Regions from separate parts of the Homo sapiens genome. Here region 1 is linked to region 2. Evidence: fine-mapped expression QTL. Tissue or cell type: tibial artery. Region 2 holds a variant in brackets; the other region holds the start of a gene. All regions are shown on one strand. Distances are from middle to middle.

The links. PIP is the estimated chance that this variant, and not a neighbour inherited with it, causes the effect.
Region 1: ENTPD3 starts here. The variant in region 2 is fine-mapped to the expression of ENTPD3 in tibial artery (GTEx, PIP 0.91).

Annotation. Positions count from the first base shown.
Region 1 is chr3:40,386,111-40,388,735 of GRCh38, reverse strand. ENTPD3 (ectonucleoside triphosphate diphosphohydrolase 3) reads right to left here and starts at 1,552. Exons shown (of 11, transcript NM_001248.4): 1 at 1,475-1,552; 2 at 639-690. The coding sequence starts at 678. RefSeq lists a silencer at 1,532-1,631.
Region 2 is chr3:40,476,800-40,479,558 of GRCh38, reverse strand. It overlaps ZNF619 (zinc finger protein 619), which reads right to left and starts at 2,437. Exons shown (of 5, transcript NM_001145093.4): 1 at 2,202-2,437; 2 at 1,556-1,641. The coding sequence starts at 1,579. RefSeq lists an enhancer at 2,124-2,263. The variant C/T (reference allele first, on the strand shown) is at 1,333.

The DNA.
Region 1 (2,625 bases), 91 kb after region 2:
ACATGGTAATTGCAAGGTACCTACCTGAGCTTGGAGAAGCCAGAGCCTTCTGGGCTTCCACATGAGCAACTCCAAAAAGTGCTCTAGAGGCAGGCGGGGCAAGCTTAGAAGTGTGTGTGTGTGTGTGTGTGTGTGTGTGTGTGTGTGTGTCTGTGTGTGTGTGCCTTCCAGTGTGAGAAAATCCTGCACTTGTGCCTGCAGTATCAACCATAACAACACTGACTCACAGTGAGGGGTGGGGGTGTTGTAGGCACTGTGCCAGCAACATTTGGATGGGAATACAGGAAAGATCCAAGTACTGTACAATTGATCACAAAATCAACAATACAGTATTCTAAAGCAAACGTTACACACAGCTAGCTAAGGGAAACCACAAGGGCCAAATTAATGGATTATACAAACCGGAAAAACCATTTAAGTGAAACATGCATGTTAGTCCTTGTTTTGTGTGGCTTTGATGAAAAGCATTACTTTTATTTGAGGAATGCCGGTGTTGAAACCCAGCTGAGTACTGAGTCTCAAACCAATAAAGTTAAACAATCATTTGCAGGGGATATGGATGAAAAACTGTAGGCCGAAGCTGGGGTTCTCTTGCGATTTGGCAAAACCACGCTTGCTACCTGCTGAGAGATACTAACCTGCTTGCTCACATGGTTGGCGGGTCAGCACAGTGAACATCTTTTCTCCTAGCTGCAGGTGAGAGAATACAGGATGTCAGTAAGTCCACCGCCCCGGCCTCACAAGTTTAAAGAACGAGCCCAGGTTAAGACAAAACCCATTTTACTTCCTCCAAATCAAAACCTCATCCCGGGAAAGGTAAGCCGAACCCCAGAACTTCAGAGACAGCCCCAAAGCTGGAGCTTAAATTTCATGTCATCTCCCCAAATGAAAGGAAATGAAAAATGGATTTGCTGAAACTTCAAACTGAAAAGGTTTTCCGAAAAAAGGTCTTTTTCTGCAGATTGTTCCACCTGTACACACACCCAAGAGAGAACAAATCTTCCCCCTATTATTAACATTCACAAAGCTGAGGCGGGGCTTTTTTTCAGAACATGAGCAAGGAAGGTTTTTGTGTGTTCATGGATCGCGAGCCTGGAGCCTCTCTAAAGCCCCGGGAAGGGAGTCTTTAGCTGCTGGCTGGAAATTGCAAAGGGATGTCGGGGCCCTGGGATCCAGCCCCCACCAGGATCTGGGGTCACCTCTCTGGACTGCGTCTCTGCATAGCCGCAGGCATCTAAGCGCCCAGCACATCTGCGGATCCATGCAGGCTGTCGGTAAAGACGCGCCCACCCGTCGTGGGCATGACAGGGACCACCTCCCAGCCGCCCAAGGATTTGGGGCTACCGTGTTTCAGTCTCTTCCTCTGGCCCTCTGAGGAAATCCGATTTTGTTTCTTTGCCTCCCAACTCTCAGTCTCACGCAGCACCCCCGACTCCTTCCTCGGCAGCTCAGGCGCCGGGTCCCCTGATCTTACCTGTGCGGAGCCGATTCGGAGAAGGCGACTAGCGCTGCCGCAGAGGCGGCCCGCGGCCAGCGCTAAGGAGGTGTCAGCTCAGACGCCGGGAGGCGGCGCCGGGTATAGCGGGGCGGGGGCGGGGCGGCCTCGGCCTGGGACCGCCCCCCCCGTCCGTGTCAAGGCCAAGTACCTCTTCACCTTCTTTTCTGATTGCTCTCACCTTCACACCCAGCCCTCGATGGAAGGGGAAGGGAGAGAGAGCGCGCCTCTTGCCAAAAGACCGGCCCTGCCTGCCCAGAGAGCCTTCTGTCCCCCTCCAGGTCGAAGCCAAACAGCACTTCACCTTTCCTCTTTCAGTTCCCTCCACACTCACCTGTACCTGAAGTCGGAGAGGAGGGAGCCAGGCCTTGCCCTGAGAACCCACCGGAGCCTATGTGGGCGAGGGGGAAGGGAGGTGTCTATTATCTGCCTCCTTCTTGCATCTGTGTCAAGACCAAGAACCTTTTGATCTGTCTTCTAGTTACCTCCATTGTCACCCCAACCCTAGGTGGAGGGAAAATGGGGACAAGGCCAGGCAGGGACTGGGCACTCTGTGGGTGTGCATGACCTTATGTGGTCCCCCGGTGGGTGGCTCCTGTGCTCCGTCTCTCCACGGGGTGGAGTAGAGTCAAACACCTGTAATGTTGGGAGTGAGGCCAGTAGGCAGGCTGGCCCCTAGGTCACTTGGGCCTAAAGCACAAAGTATGGCAGGCACATTCCCTTTCACACTTAGCAGAACTGCCTTGGCCATGCCCAGGGCCATTCTTGCTGTTTACTGAGCAATGCTCTGCCCTACCCCATTTAATATGGATGTCATAAGGCCAAAAACTCAAGACAAGTACAGCCCGGAAGAGGCAAAACAGAAAAGATAACAAAAAGGCAGCATGTGGGCTGCCGTGATCCAAACACCCCAGGAGTCTGTCTCAGTGTACAGCAGCAGGCAGCCTCCCGGCTCCTCTGAGTGACCCCAGAGACCCTTGGAGTGATCCCAGCAAGAGGCCTAAGCAGGCCCTGTTTGACCATCCCTCCTTATGGTTCCTGCATGTCTGGAAGGAAGAGCTGAGTCCCTGGCTATACCCTGCCATAGCCTGCTTTCTCCTAGAAATCCACTAATTTTCTGTCCTGTGCAG
Region 2 (2,759 bases):
CAATAGTAATTATCTGAAAGGACTCTTACAAGAATGGCATTAAGTTATTATCTGTAACGCACGAAGATATCACCTGGCACATGATATCATCTAAATCTCAGCACTTACTACAACCACAGATGAGATTGGGGGAACTTCCTAGAAGATTCTAAATGACAAATGTTCCTCTTAGAGATTGTAGCAAAGACTGACAGGTGTGTGTGTACCCCCTTTCTTTCTTAGTATTGGAATCCTAATTTTACTTGAGGTTGCACTCAACCCGGGCAACCAAGTGGGGCCAATGAAATGCAAGTATAAATATTGTTGGGGACTTATGGGAAGGTTCCTAAAAGAGAGAGGTTCATCTTTTTTTGGGCAGCTCCTCTTCTAGCTGGAATGCACACATGATGGCTAGAGATCAAGCAGCCACCTTGGACAATAAAGTGGCCTAGAGCAGGTGAGACACTGCTAGGATGGTAGAGCAGAAAGACAGAGCCTGAGAGCATAATAGGGGAGCTGCCACACTAGCCCTGTATTGACTCTTGATACTTTTGTATGAGAGAGAAGCCTTTACCTCGTTTAATCCACTGTCATTTGGGGTCCTCTTTGGGGAATCTAATCCTAAGTGATTTCTGTACTTCAGGCAAAGCACCAGGAGAGCACAGCATACCCCCACAGCACACTTCCTGACTTGTAGGAATGAATTTTTGCTGAAGTTCTCGAACAGAAGTGGATGGTCCAATATCCACCAAAAGGACACACACATTGTTTTTAAGTCCTTGGGATGGAGCTTTCTCATTACAAGATACATCCATTACATGATAAACTCAGCTTTCTCATTCCATGATCTAGGACACTGGAGAAAAATCCAGTAAAACCATCATCTACCACCAAGAAAACTGGAGGGAAAAGTCCTCCCAATGCTACATGAATTTGTAGCCAAGAAAGGATATAGACTCTCACAGAGGTTAGACTGACGTCTTCGCATTGAGCTAAAGGCACTGGCTTCAGCTCCAAACTCATCATTCCTCCAAAAATACATCTCCCTCATCAATCTACATTTTCCACATGTTTCCAGTTCTGGCTTCACTGTACCTTAACTGAGTGGTCTGCAGGGTAAACTCCTCCCTTGGAAGTGTCTATTTAACCTCAGAAATGGCTTTTCTTTGTGTACTGTGAACGCAGACTAGCACTCCTCAAATTTTAATCTGCCCTTTAATTTTCCAGATCTTGTAAAAATGTAGATTCTGATTTAGGAGATCTGGGGAGGGGGCCTGACATTTTGCCTAACAAGAGCCCTCTGTAATGCAAAAGCTGCTCATCTCCAGGCCACACTTTCAGTTCTCATGAATG[C/T]AGATTCCCACTTTCTAGGATAATTCATTCCTTCTTTTCCAACCTACCTGACTCTCCCAAATTCACCTACTCTCGTTCGTCAACTCCCCTCGCATACTGTTTTTACATACTTTATTGAAGGATGTAAAACTAAGCATGAGACTGGCCAAGTCAGGCTACTGGGGCTGTACTGACCTTCCATATCTGTTCTGAGTATGGAAAGCTGAAAGAAAGCTCTGCTCACCTGGAACCACACTGTCTGGAGCATGGCTGATGACCCCTGGCTTCATGCACTGCCCTCTAGGTTTGAAAAAGTAAGAACCTGCGGAGCTAAGAGAGAACCACAATGAGACTGATCTGTCTCGTCTCCTACACTTGCCGCCTCTTCCCCTCTGTCTCCTGCCACTAGCATTGCAGATATTCTTGGCACACTAGCTGCTGTCATTCACCCTCTCCACTGATTCATGGGATGTTGCAAATGCTCCCTCTGCATATTCTCCTATAGATCTGCTTGGTGACACTGGAAACTCTAGAAAGAATATCTGTAAAGTAAGAGTCAAGAACTGCAGTGGATTCGTGGCTGTTTTTTAAAAAAAATTCTTGGCCCCACTATGAATGCATTACTAAACAGTTTGTATTGAATGCTTCTAGTGTTCATGGCAAAAACCCAAAACAAGTCTCTGGAGAGAAAGTAGGATATAACGGGGACCCCTAAACAAACCACAGGCTGCAGGACAAAATATAAGTGGTGACCCAGCCCCGGGTGACAAGGGTAAGACGCTTAATGTCCCAGCGGGTGATGCTGACCGAAGACCTAACCGGGATCTGAACGCTCCACCCTGGGAAGCAGGAGACCCTATAGTCACGGCTCCCATCCTCCCCATGAATACCGCGACCCGAGGACATCAGGCCAGCTCCTCGGAGCAGGAAGGTCGAGGGCGTCTCTGAAGACTGGGGACTGGGCCCAGGCTCTGGCGGCGGCGCGGGCCCCTCGGCGACCTCTGCAAGGGCCCAAAGCCTGACCTCCAGAACAGGTAGCCGAGTCAGGGAAGCCCGGGAAACTCAACCCGAGCGCTCGCAAGGTGGCCAAGACGGAAGCATTAGCTGGCCGGCCGTCGGTCCCTACAGCCTCTCTAGGAAGCCGGGAGGCTGGCCCTTCTCTATGGTTCCCACGAAACGAAACTCCAACCCTTCGCTTCCCTTCTCCACAACCGCTCTGCGCCTGGTTTGTTTGTTTTTTAATTTTAATTTTTTCGTGTGTTTTTTGAAACGGGGGTCTCGCTATGTTGCGCAGGCTGTTCTCGAACTCCTGAGCTCAAGCTGTCCGCCCGCCTCGGCCTCCCAAAGTGCTGGGAATACAGGCGTGAGCCACCGCGCCCGGCCGCTCCTGTTTTTCTTTATTATTTTCTCTTATGTCTTAGTACCCCAACTACATGATAAATTCCTCC